2 separate regions of the Homo sapiens genome follow, and region 2 is linked to region 1. A link means that fine-mapping ties the variant in region 1 to the expression of a gene that starts in the linked region. Tissue or cell type: whole blood. Region 1 holds a variant in brackets; the other region holds the start of a gene. All regions are shown on one strand. Distances are between the middles of the regions.

What was found. PIP is the estimated chance that this variant, and not a neighbour inherited with it, causes the effect.
Region 2: it holds the start of LINC-PINT, and the variant in region 1 is fine-mapped to the expression of LINC-PINT in whole blood (TOPMed, PIP above 0.99). The same link has a PIP of 0.9 or more in lung.

What each region holds. Positions count from the first base shown.
Region 1 is chr7:130,998,687-131,008,618 of GRCh38, reverse strand. The region is part of intron 3 of LINC-PINT (long intergenic non-protein coding RNA, p53 induced transcript); the gene reads left to right. Among named protein-coding and RNA genes, the nearest start is that of LINC00513, 90 kb to the right of the region's middle. RefSeq lists an enhancer at 896-995. The variant C/T (reference allele first, on the strand shown) is at 6,390.
Region 2 is chr7:131,105,020-131,114,951 of GRCh38, reverse strand. LINC-PINT (long intergenic non-protein coding RNA, p53 induced transcript) reads left to right here and starts at 5,027. Exons shown (of 8, transcript NR_170176.1): 1 at 5,027-5,215; 2 at 6,149-7,232. It also overlaps a transcript of MKLN1 not described here. RefSeq lists silencers at 3,462-3,521, 4,672-4,821, 4,902-4,951, 7,009-7,068, 7,089-7,138 and 2 more and enhancers at 3,239-3,780, 6,175-7,026.

The DNA.
Region 1 (9,932 bases):
CATCATTCCTTTTATGAGTCTAGTGGACTCTCTAGTCTTCACAAACATAGGACTGATAACTTGTTTTATATTAATATTTTGTTGTATAAATACCTGTATATTTTGTGTTACTGTGTGACAAAACTGAGTCTAAAATATGTGGCTAGAAAATCTAAGAAACCAAGATGAGAATCTTCAATGATTTGTAGATTATGTCATCTTTATATCATCATGGTGTGAGGTGTTTTCTTGGATTGAGTTCCGCTGAGACAGAGATGTATGTTATCTGTTTGGAAGGTGAAAGAAACATTTTAAGGGAAGCGAGATAGGGAAACAATTGGAGCCTAACTTTGCTGGACACTCTGGGAGCCAGTGTAAGGACCAGGCCTCAGTGTTAGCCCACATGGGTCACTTACACATCAGCTTTGGCCAGTTGCTGACTGAGAGGCAGCAGCGGGGTGCGGCATCAATTTCCAGTGCTTTGCCTGCCATGTGGGCCCCATCCGTGCTCATGGTACCGCCCTCCAGCGGAGCGATGGCAGCCAGCTGCCCGTGGAGAGCCCAGCAGCAAGCCCAGAAATAAGGCCCAGGGACTAGGGGTGGGGGCAGGTGGTGTCAGGCAAATTTGTGTGCTTGCTTATTTGATGTTTCAGTCTCAGTCCTTTGAATCGTGAATTATCAAGATAGAGACTATTTGAAACATTTAAGAATTAGAGAAAAATAATAAGCACAGTATTTTCTTCTACTTGAACTGGGGCCGTTCTTCCTTCAAGAGGGAGAAGCTTACGAAAGATTATTCTGCCTGAGGAGACCTCGCCACCCCCTGCTTGAACTTTGGTCCCTGATCAATTCTGCCTTTGAATTCCTCCAATTATTATAAAGTTCTTCCTTATATTGAGTAGAAGTCTGCCTTATGGTGATACGTTGTATTTCTCAGACACGGACCCGGAAGTGGCGCCTTCCAATTCCTCCTCCTCTTCTTTTCTCTTTCGTCAGCAGATGGCGTCTTCCTTCTCTTTTTCTTTCTTTCCTCCCTCCTCTCTCCCCACCCTTGGCAAACATTTGTCACCAGGATGGATGCTGTTAGAAAAACGTCTCCCTGTGACATGTTGTCTTTTCAAAAGGACAAGAAGGAAAGGAGGAAACAGGTTTTCATTGCTTAAGGCACATTAAAACTGGCTGGTTCTCTCTAGCACATTTCTTAGACAAACACCCGTTTTCCTTTAGACTCAGAGCTGATATGTTATTGTAACAGTTAAGTTTGCCTTTACATTTTTATTCATGCTGCCTTGCAGGTAGATGGTTCCTTTTGACTTTTTTACGTAGATGGGCACCTTTTGTTAATTTTACCTTTTTAAAATACAAATGTAGGCCAGATGCAGTGGCTCACACCTGTAATCCCAGCACTTTGAGAGACCAAGGTGGGTGGATCACTTGAGGCCAGGAGTTCGAGACCAGCCTGACCAACATGGTGAAACCCCGTCTCTACTAAAAATACAGAAATTAGCTGGGCGTGGTGGTGCATGCTTGTAATCCCAGCTACTCGGAAGGCTGAGGCAGGACAATTGCATGAACCCAGGAGGGAGAGGTTACAGTGAGCCGAGATCATGCCACTGCACTCCAGCCTGGGTGACACAGCAAGACTTGTCTCAAAAAAAAAAAAAAAAAGTATTTTCTAGAGAAAAATCTTTTGATGTACAGATAAATAGATTAAAATGGATTTGTACTTAGTTTTGGGAGTAAAACTGGTAAGACAGTGATTTGGCCTAATCACTTTGAATGCAGACATCGCTGGACACATGAAGATTTAAAATTGGGCAGAGAAAAAACTGGGCAATTTTTTTTTCACCTAGATTCTTCCAGTATTATGGGCAGAGAATACATACAACTTAGTGAAAGATTGTTAGTGACTAGAAGGATTTAATTCACATATATTGTAAAACCAGACTGCATGTGGAACAAACTGTGTGTTTGAACTAATTAAGTATTCAAAGAAATATTTAATATTTCTTATTCACCCACCTTGCCCCCTTTTCTCCTCCTTTCTCGATCAGTAAATATTTACTGGATGTTTCCAGAATGTGAATGTTGCATAAAAACAAGTATATGAAATTGTCTTTGCTATCAAGGATAATATAACTGAACGTAATATATTAGCCCACTTTGCTGCTTTAGGAAGAATACTAAGGTGAGCCCAGTTTAATCTTTAACATATTGTTACCTCTCATTTCTGCTTGTTCAAATCCAAGCTGCAACTCAGTGCCATCTTCTTCATGATTATCTTTACTCCTACCCCTCTCTACCTCCATTCCCCCAAAAAGTGATCTCATACTCCTGTGAGCATCCTTAGCATTTATGCAGTCTTTTCTTTTTTTTTTTTTTTTATTATTATACTTTAAGGTTTAGGGTACATGTGCACAATGTGCAGGTTAGTTACATATGTACATGTGCCATGCTGGTGCGCTGCACCCACTAACTCATCATCTAGCATTAGGTATATCTCCCAATGCTATCCCTCCCCTCCCCCCACCCCACAACAGTCCCCAGAGTGTGATGTTCCCCTTCCTGTGTCCATATGTTCTCATTGTTCAATTCCCACCCATGAGTGAAAATATGCGGTGTTTGGTTTTTTGTTCTTGCGATAGTTTACTGAGAATGATGATTTCCAATTTCATCCATGTCCCTACAAAGGACATGAACTCATCATTTTTTATGGCTGCATAGTATTCCATGGTGTATATGTGCCACATTTTCTTAATCCAGTCTATCATTGTTGGACATTTGGGTTGGTTCCAAGTCTTTGCTATTGTGAATAGTTATGCACTCTTTTCTTGGACTTTGCTCTTTCTCCTTTGTCGTATAGTTATATTATAGTTGTTGACCTTGGGCTATCTTCATTCCTAACGTTCTCATTCTAGTACCTTGTGTAGAAATGCTGTTCACTAAATGACATATCGAATGGGTATTAAATTTATTATTAAGTGCCTTGGCTCTTAATTGGTCAGGCTTGGATTTCAGTCTCAGCTCTGCCATTTACTATCTCTGTGATTTTGGCCAAGTATTAACCTCTCTAAATTTCAGTTTGCTATTCTGCAAAATGGGAATGATGATAATGACTACTTGAAGGAGACTTTGTGAAGATGGATGATTTTTGCAACAGTGTAGGTAAGAGATAGTGCCTGGGCATAGTAGTGCTTGGTAAATTTGGGTGTGTGTCTACATGCTTTTCCAGGCTATATGCACAGACACACAGACACACATAGTGTATGTGCAGGATGCTAGGCACTAGAAGAAAGATGAAACCACACAAATCCTATGCTCATGTTGCTTAAAGAAGAAATAAAACTGTGTAAGGTAGAGGTGAGGTGTGGTGACTCACACCTGTAATCCCAGCGCTTAGGAAGGCTGAGGTGGGAGGATTGCTTGAGCCCAGGAGTTCAAGACCAGCCTGGGCAATATAGTGAGACCCCATCTCTACAAAAATTTTTTTAAAAAAATAGCCGGTCATGGTGGCACATGCTGGTGGTCCCAGCTACTCGGGAAGTTGAGGTGGGAGGATTGCTTGAGCTCGGGAGTTAAAAGCTGCAGTGAGCCGAGATCACTCCCCTGCACTATGGCCTGGGCAACAGAGCGAGACCCTGTCTTCAAAACAAAGCCAAAAAAACCGTGTAGGGTGGAAAATGATGGCACTGTTGGAGCAGCAAAGATGGAGTGCTGTGGGAGTTCACTTCTTTCTCCCAGAGATTGCGCTAGGCAAGGTATGGTTTATGGGAAGTTTTAATGCAAAAGGTGGCAGTTGTGCAGAAAGCAGAAAAGTGGGTAAAGCTTGAATGAGTGGAGATGGAGGCAAGAGAGACAGAGAAATAGTAAAAATATATATTTTTTATCTTTTCAAAAACTTGTTGTACATTGGAATTTTCCAGTCAAAGGCTGAGATTGGAGATGGATATCCCCACTGGTCTGCAAGTCATTTTATAGACTTGCCAAGTGCCTGTGTGGGTTCTCAGATGGCCTACTGTCTTTGGTCCGAGTGTGGTAGCTGTCAGGTCAGAAATGAGGAAGTGCACCAGGACTCCAGCTTTGGTAGTCTGTAGCACTGTGTTGGGTATATTTCCCACAGATATGGAAAAGGGGAAGATGTAACTTGGTAATCATCTCTAAAGATATGTCATCAAGAAGCTTTTCAGCTTAATTGTTAAATATTCAAATATAGGCCAGGTGTGGTAGTTCATGTGTGTAATTCTAGTACTTTGGGAGGCTGAGGTGGGTGGATCATTTGAGGTTAGGAGTTCAAGACCATCCTGACCAATGTGGTGAAACATCATCTCTACTAAAAATACAAAAATTAGCTGGGCATGGTGGTATGCGCCTGTAATCCCAGCTACTCGGGAGGCTGAGGCAGGAGAATTGCATGAACCTGAGAGGCGGAGGTTGCAGTAAGCCAAGATCACACCACTGCACTCCAGCCTGGGCAACAGAGCGAGACTCTGTCTCAGCAACAACAACAAAAAATTAAATATAATAGAAGCTCTCTCATCAAGTATGAGTAAACCATTGAAAAAAATATGTGCAATGTTTTGTACTCCAGCCTGGGCAACAGAGCGGGACTCTGTCTCAACAACAGCAACAAAAAATTAAAAATAATATAAAGAAGCTCTCTCATATTGTGTATATACAGATTTTTCTAAGTAATTTGAAGTAGATAGGGAATAAGAGGATCAAGTATGAGTAAACCATTGAAAAAATAATGGAATGTTTTGTGCTTGTTGCGCATTGTATCGTCCAAATTCAAGTGTGGACTTTAATCTCCAGTCTACAGTCCGTCCATAAGGTTAATCTCAGTGATTCCAGTTGGCATAAAAATCTACCGCTCACACTAGTAAACTAACAAGTTTGCCCTTCTTCTCCCACCTTCAAATGCCACCCCCAATTCTTACACTGTTTAAATAGGAAATTGGGAAGCATTTATTTTTTTCCCAGGTTCAGCAATCCCATTTTGACTGTAAACTAAAGTTAGAAAGAAGAGTTTAGTGGTATATCCTCTGACAGACTAGATTGCTGGTCCTATCAATTACTAGCTGTATAAGCTTAGGTAGGTCATTTTCCAGAGAATTCTGTTTACTTATCAGTGTTACTAGGCTAGTAAGACCTGTTTCCCTAGAAAACATAGATTCTTAACCTGGCGTTCATAGATGGTCTTCCTTAAAACTACATGTATAAAGCTAAGAATGGTGGTGCACATCTATAGTCCCAGCTACTTGGGAGGCTGAAGTGGGAGTATTGCTTGAGCCCAAGAGTTCAAGATGAGCCTGGACAACATAGCCAGACCCTATCTCTTAAAAAAAACAAAAAATAAAAATAAATTTAAAAAAATATGTAGTTATGTGTTTCTGGGACCATTATCTTTTTTTTTTTTTTTTGGATTCTCAGAGGGAATTCTCCCCTGCTCCCCCCAAATTAAGAATCTCTGCCTTAGAAGTTAGTGTGCATTTGATAAGCCATAATAGATAGAAAATGCTGTACTAATGTAAAATGCAGCATTATTTCAAGTAGATTATAATGACTCCCTCCTTAGACCATTTAATGTTCTCTTAAGTATGAGCTTATCTTTTGTAGGTCATAAACAGAAAGTAGAAAAAAAAATCTACAAAAGAATTTAAAAATCTAAATAAACCTAGACTTATTTGAAGTCTCTTGCATTCTAAGGCAGATACCGTTTCCTAGTTGTTTGGATTGTCTATTACTATATAACACACCACCCTAAAACTTACCACATTCATACAACTATCATTTTATTTGCTCATTAGTCTGTGAGTTGGCTAGGGCTCAGGTGGATGGTTCTTCTGCTGGTCTCTCTGATTATCTAGAGTGGTTACAGTAAGATAGTGACTGGGGCTGAAATATCCAAGACAGTTCACATGTCCAACACCTTAATGGGGATAGTGGAGAGGTTTTGACCTCTCTATCTACATGGCTTGCTTAGTCTTTTTAATAGGGCAGCTGAATATCACTAGATATTCTGAGAGATACTTTTATTGGACGTGTCTCACCTAGTATGCAAGCATTCATGAAGCTTCTGCTTGCATCATGCTTTCTAATGTCCCACTGGTCCAGTCCAGAGTTGGTGTGGGAGGGCACGACCATGGGTGTGATCACCAGTAGGCATGATTCCTTGGGGACACCAAGATAATATGCCACATTACCATATAGGAGTGACTCATTAATATTTTTATTGAATGGGATACTTGTTTTCAATGTAGTATAGTTCACAAGTCTTCACTTTGATAAAGCTACTTTTTTTTTTTTTTTTTTTTTTTAGAGACAGAGTCTTACCCTGTCACCCAGGCTGGAGTACAATGGTGCGATCTCGGCTCACTGCAACCTCTGCCTCCTGGGTTCAAGTGATTCTT[C/T]TGCCTCAGCCTCCTGAGTAGCTGGGACTACAGGTGCGCACCACCACACCTGGCTAATTTTTGTGTTTTTAGTAGAGATGGGGTTACATTATGTTGGCCAGGCTGGTCTCAAACTCCTGACCTCAGGGGATCTGCCCACCACGGCCTCCCAAAGTGCTGGCATTACAGGTGTGAGCCACTGCACGTGGCCGATAAAGCTACTTTTTAAAGTAAATGTGCACTCAAGTACTCCCTTTATTGTTTGTGGTAATATTTATTTATTTAGATAATCCAGTTGTCCTCCTTTGGTGTCCCCAGTTCATACACACCTAAACATAACTTAAAATTTGTTTGGAATTTGAAAGTACAGAATTTTCCTGTAATTGAGACTTTTTAAACTTTTGTGGTTGGAGAAGGTATTCTATTTTTTGAAAATATCTGTAAGTTTTATCTAAGTAGTAAACTCTAAGTATTCTTCCCCTTTACTTACAGCCACCCTGGGAATCTGAGACTAGAGAAAATAAAGTTTGTCTCTTGTTCTAAGGAGGGTCTGGTTTAGAAATCTGATTTAGACATAGAAAAATTGCAAGAAGCTTGAGGTGATTGGAAGATACGATTTTGTTATCAAAGTATGTTTCTGTTTTATAGATTTTATTCATCTACAACTCCTTATTAATATATTTAAGAAGTCATTAACCCACCATTGATTACTTGATATAAAAGGAGAAACGGTGGTAAAAGGTGAAATAGAATTTTTAATTTTTTTTTTTTAAGTTTAGGATTTTTTTTTTAAATTCTAAGAGTTTCTGTCATTTGGGGACAATCAGAAACAAAAAAATAAAAATAAAGCATTGATGGTACTAGTATATATCAAGGAAATTATTGCCTGTGACACAGCTTATGTGGAGTCAGTGTTTTATAGATTGATGAACATCAGCTCATTTTTCCAGGGAGAGTAATAGCCGGTCTCTTCCTTGGAAATATTTAAGGAACATTTAGTTTATAAGAAAGCTCTGATAGATGATTGAAATCACAGAACAGAAGACTGATCACACTTAAACACAGTGCATCTGCATTTACTTAAGGTACTGAAGTGCAGTGCTTCTCAAACTTTACCCTGCATGGAGAACCCTGGGGCATCTTGTTAAAAGATTCTGATTTAGTGGCTCTGGGATGGAGCCCTGAGGCTCTGCATTTCCCAGAAGCTCCTACACAGTGGGAGTGCTGTTCGCTTACCAGCAAGTCTTTAGTATAGGTAACCCTGCTGAAGTCTTTGTCCTAGGCAAGAAGCCCACAAGAATCCCGTCACCCATTGGGATGTTGTGGCCTTTCACTTTTGGCATTCACCTCTAGCAGTACAAGAAGGAATCCTTTTAGGATCTTTTCACACATGCTCAAGTCATTCATCTCAAAACTAGAAAATATATCTTAATTTAAAACCATTTTTGGGGGGATGTGGCATTAAGTTCATTTGTATAAATCTGACATTTGTTAATAGCTGTAATTTGAAAATGAAAAAGTTATTTGGCTTACATCAAATAAATTAGTCCCTCAGCGATTCTTTGTCAAGGCCCCCCCTATCTGGATATAACAGGACTCTTGCTTCTATCAGATTGTCCACTAAAAACCGAGGTATGTGGAGGGCCAGCATTGTTCACCAGCGTAACTGGCTGGTTGCCTGACTTACTGCCAGTACTTCATCTGAACGAGGACACCTAGAAGTATGACCGTCCTTCTTTCACTCAGGTGGATTCATTTCTTTAGAAATTTGTTTCTTGTATCTGGTTTAAACATATCTCTGGAGGTATTGAAGACTGACCCGCTGTCAAAAAACAAAATGCCATAAAATTAGCTTAAAGATCTAATTGGCTTTTATTTGCTGTTCTAAAGTACAGCAACACCTCATTCTATAAAATACAGTGGGTGTTACGATGAGCCGAGCAGAGGAGGTTGGTTTTATAGGCAGAAAAGGGCTGAAGAAAACAGTGAACAAAAAGTTATTCATCATTTCGAAGTTGTTTTCCTTACAAAGGTTAAAGCAGAGGGGACTTCCTTATCATGCCAGCTAAAACTGGCCTTTTTGGAGATTTGGCTCTTATCTCTCTCTCTCTCCTGATTTCTTGGAACAACTTAGTTTTGACTTGGTGGCTTGGGATTTCAGCCTGAGCGACTCCATTTTGGTTTGGTCTCTGGGGCCTAGTGCAGGAGCTCAGTCCAAACCACTGGACTACTATAAATTTTATTTACCACTGCATTTTAAAAAATACAGAATCTTCACTGTAGAGTCTTTTCTCCTAACTTTAATAGAGGGAAGCCATTGTAAATACAACCCCTTGGTTTAGAGCCCATCCAAATAGTCCTTCCAAAAACCAAAAACTTTTTAGTTAGAAAATATTTTTAATTGAAAAACTGCATACTGAGAAGACACTACTGGTGATCTATAGTTGGTGGAACTCATGCTTGAACAAGTTTGCTCACACAGAGGCAGCATGGGCAACAGGAGTGAGGGCTTTGGAGTCAGACAGACTTGGCTTTGAATCCTTGCTCTGCTGTTACTAGCTGCGTGACCTTAGGCTAAACCTGATTTAAATCATTTTTCTGAATCAAATAGAATCTGATGAGGGTTCCCGCTTTTCAGAGTGTGTGGGAAACCCACTCTCGTTGTTGGGATCCCTCCCTCCACCAGAGGGGAAGAGGGACTCCTGACCCCGCTCCATTTGTGGTTGCTCTGTTCATGTCCCTGGCCCAGTCCCCTGGCGTCCTCTCAGAAGGGAACCTCTGTTAGTGCTTTGCAGGGGGTTTCTGCAGAGTGCCCCCAAGCCTGTGTTCACTGAGGTCTCCACTCTGACAACACTTTCATCTGGAATCCTGCCTCCTGCAGGTGTGTGAGTGGGTCAGGGCTTTTCTCTTCATGGGACCCTAATCCCTTCCCCTCCCAGTTTTGGGGAAACCAACCCCAGGGATTGAGTCACTTCCAGCTGTGTTCCCACAGGCCCACAACCTTCACACTTGCAGCTCTGGGCTCCAGCACCTAATTCCTTCAGTCTCTGCCTTCAAAACACAAAGGTCTCAGGTTAGACATACCTCATACATGGGGAATGTTCCTCTTTTTTTCTAAAACCACAACAAAAATCTGTTTATAACTACAACCAACATTTATTGTGTGCTTACTACTTGGAGTCAGGCACTATTGTAGAAGACAGTTAAGTGTCTTCAATTCAATTTACTTAACAATCCTTATGGGTATAAACAGGAATAATATATTCACACATACTGTATTATTCCTGTTTATAAGGAAATTGGGGCTCATAAGATTGGATCAGGAGCCTACAGCTAGGGAGTGGAAGAATCTGAATTTGAACTTAGATCTCTTTATTTAGTAAACCATGGAAACCTGGCTACTGAGTTCTCACTTTGCCAACAACCTGTTTCATCTTGCGTATATTTCTTGTTTCTTAAATATATTTCCCTTATCTGAAAAAAATCAGCATAGAGTAGTTGCATTTCAGAGTATCTTTGTGTCTGAAAAATCCGTGATTCTGCTCAACTGCTGTTTTACTTCCA
Region 2 (9,932 bases), 110 kb before region 1:
TTTTTTTTTTTTTCTTGAGACAGAGTCTTGCTCTGTTGCCCAGGCTGGAGTGCAGTTGTGCAATTTCAGCTCATCACAACCTCTGCCTCCTGGGTTCAAGAGATTCTTGTGTCTCAGCTCCTGAGTAGCTGGGACTACAGGTGTGTGCCACTACACCCGGCTAATTTTAGTAGAGATGGGGTTTTGCCATATTGGCCAGGCTGGTCTCGAACTCCTAACCTCAGGTGATTCGCTCACCTCGGCCTTCCAAAGTGCTGGGATTACAGGTGTGAGCCACTGCAGCTGGCCACAATCCTCTTTTTCTTGACTTCTAGCTGGCATTTAATACTGCTGATGTTTCCTCCCCTGGCTCCTTTGAAACTACTTGTTCCTGGTCCTCCTACCTCTTGGGATATTTTTCCCCTGTATTTTTTCTTTCCTCACTTTTTAAATATCAGGGTTTTCATAGGGTTCCAAAGTAGATCCTCTTCTTTCCTTTCTCTATGCCTTCTCTTGGGGATTTCATCTACTTCCATGAACTATTCCTTATTCTGATGACTCCAGCATAGATCTCTCTCCTGAGTTCTAGACTTCCCTGTTCAATTATGTAGTAGACAGCTTCACTTTGATATTCTATGGACACTTCAACTCAACATGTTGAAAACTAAACTAATTACCTTCACTCCACAACCTGCTTTTCCTCCTGAGGTCCCTATCTTGGACCTCAGGATATATCTGCAGGATATAATGGGAGCAGATTTATGGCTTATGAAAATGGAAGGATAGCATTGATGGAGGATACCATCAATAATCAAATTCTGTTGGTTCTATGTCCTTAATATATCTTAAACCCTTTCAATGCTTCCTCTCTCCATGTCCATTCTTGCTACCTTAGTTTAGACATGCATCATTATTTCTTTCTTATAATGTGATATGGTTTGGCTCTGTGTCCCATCTCAAACTGTTAGCCCCACGTGCTGAGGGAGGGACCTGGTGGGAGGTGACTGGATCATGGGGGCAGTTCCCTCCATGCTGTTCTCACGATAGTGAGGGAGTTCTCATGAGATCTGACGGTTTTAAAAGTGTCAGTTTCCCCCGCAAGCTCTCTCTCTCCTGCTGCCTTGTGAAGGTGGCTGCTTCCCCTTCGCCTTCCACCATGATTGTAGGTTTCCCCAGGCCGGAGCACAGTGGCATGATCTCTGCTCATTGCAACCTCCGCTTCTGTGGTTCAAGTGATCCTCCTGAGGAGCTGGGACTACAGGTGTGTGCCACCAGGCCTGGCTAATTTTTTTTTTTTTTTTTTTTGTATTTTTGTAGAGACAGGGGTTTCACCATGTTGCCCAGGCTGGTCTCAAACTCTTGAGCTCAAGCAATCTGCCCACCTCAACCTCCCAAACTGCTGGGATTACAGTAGTGTGCCACTGCACCCAGCTGAGAGATCTTTCTAAAATGAACATTTGATCAGTTCACTATGCCCCTTAAAATTCATCAGTGGTTCTCCACTGGCCTTAGAATAAGTTCAAACTTTTTAGGATAACATACTCAACCATGCTAATCTTTCTGGATTTCTCCTCCAGGACTTCTGCCATGCATTTATACAATGTATTTATTTAGAACCTACTTGCCAGGCTCTGTTCTTCACCCTCAACTCCCTGCACACAGCTTTTTCCCTAAGGTCTTTACACATAGTACTTTCTTTGCTTGGAATATCTTTCCCTGTAACCTGCCCACTTGTCTGGCTTACTTCTACTTATCCTTCAGAACGCATCTCAAGATTCACCTTGTGTGGTTAGAGACCCTATGCGTGGTCAGGGTTAGGCACCATTCTTATGAGCTCCCCTGTTGATATCATCTCACTGTTGCGTGATCAACTGTATATTCATCTTTGTTCTCATGATACTATAATGTCCTTCAGAGCAGAAACTGTGTCTTATTCATCTTTGTATTCCCAGCACCCAGCACAGTACCTGACACACAGCAAGCACTCAATAATGAATAAAGTGGCAGAGTTGGGTTTCAAAGTCAGGTCTTTTCTCTCTGGCACAAATCTCACATTTCTTCATGCTACTTCTCAATACTGTGAATTTGAAAAATTCCAAGAGCTGAGCTAGGTCTATTTTTGCCTAGCACTAATTAAAACACAGGCAAATAGATTATTATTAGTTCCATGAGGATTCAGTTGATTATTTTTTTGTACACCCCTTCCTCCATCATTCCACCACTTTGATCATCAGAGTACTTAGGATTACCTATATCTAAAATGACTGAAAGGCTAGGCATGGTTGAGTGCACCTGTAGCCCCAGCTACTCAGGAAGCTGAGGTGGGAGGCTTGCTTGAGCCCAGGAGTTGGAGGCCAGCCTGGGTAACACAGTGACACGTTGTCATAATAAATAAGTGAGTAGACTGAAAGAACTTTCTCTATACTTTTATATCCTTTTGTAACTCTTATCCTGTTGCTTCCATAATACCACTGAGGCAGGGAGAGACTAAGTACATGGGGAGCAAGGTAAATTTTATTTTTCTGTCAACAGACACTAAAAATGGATACATCAATAGAAAGTCATTTCCCATCATTTCCCTCAAGGTTCCTATGGATAGATATTAAAGGTTCAGTGCTTAAATTTAACATTGCAAAATCCAGCTAAAATTGAAATTTTTATGTAGTGAGTTCAATCTCATCACAGAAGTTTGTAAATGGGAGGAACCTTAGAAATCCTTTAGTCCAGCACTTTCATTTAAGCTTCCACGAAGAAACTGACATAAGACCTACAATGGCTCACTCAAGGTCATCCAGGCTATCGATGCCATTATACATCTTTTTCAAAGGGCTTCATTTTCCATCTAAACAAATTATCTACATCAGAATCCACCTATTTACATAGGGCTTATCTTTCTGATATTGCCTTTGCAATATCCTTGTTATAAAGAGGAAGGAACTGAAAACAAACAAAACAAAACAAGGTTGTCTTGTCCAGGGACATAGAGGAATTGGTAAAAAAGACAATTAGTACACAAAGTGATGGGGTTTCCTATTTGTAGTGTAGCCTTGTAGTCACACTGTGTTCTCCGAATGCCACAATGCTAACCCAAAATTACTTGTCCTTCCTGGGCCTGGATTCCATTCAATTTTATGCCTTGTTTAGTCTAAATGATTTCCCCAGCTTCGACATGTATTTATTTATTTATTTATTTATTTATTTATGCGTTTCATTTTAGAAGTATACTTAAATCTACTCTTTACTCGAGTTTGTCTTAGTTCTAGTGCTGAGGAATGAAGATTCTGGGTAAAAGAAATCAAGATGATGTTTTTTTTTTCTAGGCTTTACATTTCAAGGATTGTTTCTCAAATGGCAACTGGCAGTCTACTCCTCAAATGATGACGTTTTCCACAGGAATTACAATTTAATTGGAATATTTTGTTTTCAATGGGAAGCAAAGATTTCTTTCCAAGAGGATCAGTTTGATAATGTTTTACCAGCTAGTGCTACGAGACCAAATATAAACCAGTTCTGAGAAACAGGAAGTGAACTGACTGGTCTAGTCTGAGTGTCCCTGGCAGTGACGCAAATACAGAAATCAAATTAGGAAAACAAGATATGTGGGTGTGAGGCAATCGATAATAATCCAGGATGCTACAACATAAGCAAGAATGCCTTTAACCCGATGCCATTCATTTTAATAACACCCTGAGCAGTTTGATTTCCACGGAACACGCTGGTGATTAGAGAGCAGCAGGAGCTTGGGTTCCCTAGCAACAGCATGTGCTTTTGAGACAGTCATTAGCCTTTCAGTTAATCCCATCAACCCCTTACCTCTAAATGTATGACTGACATAAAAAAAATGATGTTTTAGAAAGTGCTTTGAAATTTCCAGGAGTGCAATGGAAGGGAATAATCATAATTAAAAAGTTGTCTGGAGAACTACACTCCAGTGAAGGAAGTAATGTTCCTACGTGCCAAGCCTGTCCGTATATTTCCCTGCTCTCAGTTGTAGGTTTCTGAATCCCCTGTGGCAAAGGGCAAGGGAGGTGAAATTGTTCAGAGTTTCAGGCAGTCTTCTCACCTAAAGTGAGTAGTATTGCAATGTCTCTTGGAATCATGGCTCTGAAGATGAGGAGAGAAGCGGGATGGGCAGTTTGTGTGGTGAGGAGGCTGGCTGCAGGTAGGCTGGGAGGGAATGTCACACATAGTTTTCTTTCTCCTTTAAGCCGAATGAGGTATGCTGGTCAAAGGAACTTGGGGAAGGAGGATGGTGAGGGGAATGAAGTTCTTCTTCCTATTGATTGTTTTGTTGCACCAGAGGCTGTTTGTCCAAGGCCACTGGCCAAGAGCATTATTTTCGTGGCTAAAGTGAGGTTGGGCAGGTTTCCCATCCCTTTCACTAGTTTTGAACAAGACAACCCAGAAAGCGCAGCAAGGCTCTGGGAATATGATGTGGGTTGGCTTTTCCTACTCAGCTGCACCTTAAAGCGCCAGGCCGATGGGCTGATACTTCTCAAACCCTGAATCATTGCCTCCAGCTCTGTCCTGGGTTCAGGATGCACCACTCCACCCTCTGTGTAGCTTGGGGTCAACTTCGGGGCGTCACTCCAATAGTAATTATTGCTGCGTTTGGCTGGACATCCTTATTACGGCCTGGGTCCCTCTCAGCTGGAAACTGGGCTCCTTCAGTTTGGCTGGGGTGACTTCTAGCACTTCCCGCCGCCCCACCTTACCCCCCTGCGCGCTCCCTTCCCAAGGCGACCACCTGCACCGCCCCACTTACCATCTGCCCCGCGGGGAGGGCCCCCCGGGCTAGCGGAGCCCTCCCTGCTCCCGGGCGGCTCTGGAGGAGCTCGGTGTTTGCCTCTAGCCCTTCGCTACCGGAGGATCAGGTTCCTCCCCTCCTCCCCCTCCAGCTCCGGCCGCCGCCGCCGCCGCCGCCGCCTCCTTCTTGCATGACACAGCAGAACCGCAGCTGCTGCAGCAATTTCAAGCCATCCGCCCAGGAAGCGCCGCAACCGGGACTCGGGAGGGGTGGAGGGGGCGAGGCAGAGGCCGCGGCCCCAGGGGATCCTTGGCCCCACTGTGCACCACACACTCCTTTCCCAGCCCAGGGGCACGCGAACAAAATGAGGCTCAAGCTGACCAGGCCGAGCCGGAGGAACGCTGGGGCTTGGCAGCAGAAGGGATGGGACCAGAGAGAAGGGTGTGGAGGAGACCCCAGTGAGGGCCAGGACATTTCAGGTAAAGAGAGGTAAGAAGAGGCCCAGAAGTCAAGGGCCAGACTGTGAAGGTGATTAGAGGTCAAAAGAGGTAAGGAGGTAGAGTTGCAAAGAAGAGAGGCCGAGCTGGGAAGGGCGTGGGGGTGGGGGTAGCTGCAGGGGAGGGTGGGGGGTACAGTCTTTGGGGAGGCCCGAGCTGAGCCCCCAGGCAGAAAAGGGGCTGAGTTGGGAGGCAAGGGAGGTAGGAGGAAAGGGATGAAAAGAATTAGGCATGAGATAGGAAGGTAAAACTTGGGAGAGATATTATAGAATTAGAAGGGTTGGAATGGAGCTCATTCATCATGGCTGATGAAGTAAACTGATGAGGTGGAGAGAGACAGAGTCAAGGCAAGGCCAAACGAAAAGATCTTCCATCCCACTCTTCAGTTTCTTGCGAAGTTTTTCTTGATTCCGCCAATCCACACAGTTTCCTTTATAAAATGGAAAAGCATGAACTAAAAAACCCAGAAATAGCTATCTGGCTTAGATTTACAGGATAAAATCTCCATGTCTGTAAAAACTTTAAGGCAGAAATTTGGGATTTATGGTACAAACCCTTTAAGGGACTGTGAGTCAGTAATACCCACAGCACTCAACATTGTGAGTTTCCACACATCCCTGGACTTGAGTGAGTCTTTCCAAGTGTTTGTTAATGGTACAAATGATGACAAAATTAGTGGTTCAAAAATATTAAAGTGCACATGCTTTTTGCTTTCTCTATGTATACAGAGATTACATATATGTATACTTTCTAGCGTCTAGCAAGTATGGTATGGCTAGGGATAATTATGTTTTTCTGATTATTTTGTTTCCCATCAAACACCCCACGAATTTTACAGCAGACCGCCTTCTTGTCACCATTTGAAAGAATGTGGTCAGAAAAGTAATGCAAAAACTGCCACTTTGGTTTTGTCTGTACCTTCCAGGTCATATCTCCGTACCTCACTTCCTGACACAAACAAGTTTTCACTGTTGTCAGCAACAAAGCCCTAATATAGCTGCGGAAGAGAAAAACTGCATTGCATTTTGCCTCCTGCAAGCATCATCAACAGTTACTGGAGGAACGTAATTCCAGAAAGCTTGAAAGCCGTGGTGATGGTAATTATGTATCAAATGCCTGGTTCTATTTCTGTTATTATTGTTTTGTCATTTCTGTTTTCCCAGCGATCTGACTGAACTCGCAGAGGGACAAATCCAGTTTTTCTTTTTGACTTTTGTCAAACTAAATCAGGCCTGATAGAAAACTCATTGCTCTCCGGGGAAACAAAGTAGGAGCCACGAAATGTCATTTTAACAGAGCGTGGGTTTGGTGACTGTAGGAAAGGATTTGAGGACGCTCCTTCTGTTCGGCTTCCTATGTCATGAGCACAGGCTCCACGCACGCACAGACACCACGGCTCCCGGATGCTGTGGCTCCCCGATCGGGGCTCCTGCAGCGCCAGAAGCCCCTCCGGGATGCTTCGAGGGGCTCCCGGTGGGTGGAGGTACGGACGCCGCTGCGGCCGCCGCCGCCAGTCCTGCTGCTGTTGTTGCTGCTGCAGTCACGTGGGAGCCCCTTTAAGTTTCCATAGAGAGGCCTCTCTGGTGTCACATGATGGACATGATATAATGAAACAACATTGTGGAGAGGAAAGCATTAGGGGAGCCCACGGCTACAAAAACAAGTGAGTGAGAAGAGGTGGGAGGAAGAGAAACTACGCCACCTCCCCTGCAGCCGAGTGCACGCAGCAGCCTGGCGTGACAAGTGGGCGACGCCGGGGGGCAGGGAGCCGGGGTCCTTGGCCCTGGCCGGGGACCCCACCGCCCACCGCGCGGAGGACAACTTTTAGCCGGCAGCCCAGACCAGCGCGGCACCTGTCTCCGGAGTCTCCACCGCTCCTCCCGATTCATCCCAGGGAAATTCTCAAGAATACGCTCTACAAATCTACGTGCGCATCATTTTCACCTCGCGTCGCGCCCGGGAGGAAGGAACGAGGCAAGGAGCTAAAGCAGCGTGCGTTCAGCCCTGGGGTAAGTTCGTCGGGTGGGGAAGCCGGTCCCGCAGGACTTTGGGATGGGAATTTTGCTCTCCTTTGCGATCTCAGGGCGTGAAGAAGGCGTCCCCTCCGCTGCCGGCGGAGCTGATCGGCTGGCTAGTCAATTTCCCCTTAGCACGCCCCGTGCGCCCACCCTCGCTCAGCCCGGGGCCCCCTCGCCGTCCCCCGGAAGGGGTCTGCGGTTCCTGGCCAGGACGTTCGGAAGGCGAGCGGGGGAAGGTAGGGCTGTCGCGGGAACCCGGCTTGTGAGAGCGATTTCGCCATGTTTGTGTTGCTAAGAGCACTTTTTCCCCTTTGCTGTGGCTTGATGCCACATGGCTCCTCCGGAGCTGCTGCCGGGCTGAGAGAGTGTTTTTTTTTTTTTTTCAATGTCCGCATTCCAGCTAATGTTGCGCAGATAAAATTCAAACTTGAGGTAAACAGAAGAAGAGGAGGAGGAGGAGGAGGAGGGGAGGGGGGAGGAAGGGGGGACTGTTTCCATTTCGAGATCCCACCTCTTCCCTCCGCGCAGCCCAACATCCCGAACCTAGAGACAACTCTTGCCTTTCTCCCACGTCCCCCACCTTTGCTGTCAACAAGAAATAAAGGCGGGGCGGGGGGGGGGGTTGGAGGTAGGGGGTGGCGTGCTTATTAATTAGAAAGGACGCGGTGTCTCGGTTCTCCACTGGAATCAGCAACTCCCTGGAACTCGGGCCTCTGGCCCCGTCCCTCTTTTCTCCGGCAGGGACGCAGGATGCCTTGGTGCACTCTAGAGACGGGGACCGGAGGGTGCAGCGCGCCTGGGTGGGGCGAAGGGCGCCGGTCTCCTCACGCCCTCTGACTTTAGGATACCAGACAGTGTCTCTTCAACCCCACCCCAGGCGCAGGTTTCCAGAAGGCGGGGTGGGTGGGGCCCCCGATTTCCAGAAGGCGAGTTACCTAGCAGGTGTGTGGGGTGGGCATTGCTATTCGGTAAGTCTGTTGCATGGGGTAGGATGACGTGGGGAGCTTAAAAGCTTTAAAGCCAGCGCAAAGGTAGAGCTGCGTCTGCTGTTTTTGTTTTTTTTTTTTTTTCCCTGTGTCTGTGGCAAATTAAGGAGAAAAATCAAGACGTTCCCTTCAGTCCTCCCTCGGTGTTAACGTCTGCTCCAGCTCGCAGCCCGCTGCTGGGTGAGTGGCGACATCAGGGCGAGGGTGAGCTTCGTCACGGGGAAAGCTGGAGGCTCCTGACAGCTCGTAGCCGTCCTCCCCTCGCCCCGCCCTAGGCGGAAGGTGTGGGTTGGGTGGTCCGAGGAGGGTGACGTCCAAGGTGGGGTGGGCACAGGCTCGGGATCCCTCGCAGCGCTAGGGGCCGCAGCCCCGGTCGCCGGGGAGTGCCATGGCAGGGAGGCGGCAGCCACGTGAGGGGTCTGCGGAAGCGCCGGAGCTGAAAGCTGGGGGCGAAGTGCGTAGCAGAGTCGTGACGGGGGTGACACGCAGCAGCCGGGGGCGGCGGGCCGCCGGAGCCGGGCGCCTCCCACGCAGGGCCGGCGTTCCCCGCCGCGGGTGGGTGCGCACTCGCCGGCCCTCTCCCGGGAGACCGTTTCCGGGAGCGGGCGCTGGCGGGGCGGGGCCGTGGCGGTAAACAGGGTGGTGCCCTCTGCCCTCCCGCCCCCGGCCTGCCGGGGCGCGCGGCCGGCGGTGCCCGGGGCGGTGGAGGCGCGGTCGCGGCGCCGGGCAGCGGGGGCGCGCCCGCTCTCTGCCGCCCCCGCGCGCGCCCGCCGCCGCCCGGCCGGCCTCCTCTGTTTTTGTTTTGATGGAGCCCGCGTGCAGCTGGCGCGTGTCGAGTCACGTGCCGTGGGCGGGAGGGGGCCGGGGCGCGGGAGGCGAGGGCGCGGTGACACGGGCCGGAGGGGCCTGCGCCCGCGGAGGGCGCGCGAGGGGGCGTGTGGCCCCCGATGGAGCCCTGCCGCGCGGGTGCCCCGGCGCTGGCTGAGGGGCTTGGCGCTTCTCGGCGAGCAGTGCTAGGTTTGTCGTCGCAGCGCTTCGGGGAGCCTAGTCCAGGAGAGAGGACCTGCCTGCGCTGCTCGGCTCAGAACTCGGACCTTACAGGTGGTGTGTACATCCCGGTGGACGGGTAGACACTTCTGTGTGCTCCTGAAGGCCGGCTGCGTGTAATAACCAACTGGAGTGCTTTAAGAAGGATTCTAACGCCAGCCCAATCCCAGACCAATTGGACCCACATCCACATAGGGCCTGGACAGTGTATTTTTAACCCCCTCTTCCCCATAAGTGATTTTGGTGCAGTGAGAATTTATAGAAGTAACCAGCTTGATGGAATAGCTACTTGTGAAATCACATCTATTTAGGGACAAAATAGTAAAAATAGCTAAAATAGCTAACACGTATTCATCTGTCACTCAGTGGGGTCTCTGTGTCAGATACTGCGGCTCCCCAAACATGGATCTACTCGTAGAAGTACTGTTACCCCTATTTTATAGTTGGAGGAGGAGTGGAAGCTCGGAGTTAATCAGGGAGGACTACTGTGACTAGGACCTAGGGAGGTCGAGTTCAAAACCCCTACTTTCAACAGTCACATATGCCTCGTGGAAAATGTACCTTTGCCTAAGGGCCCCATGTTTGTGTGAATAGTAGTAATGTTTGCCTGAGGGCCAGCTTGTTTATGTGGGTACATTTCTACTGTTAAGATTTTTGT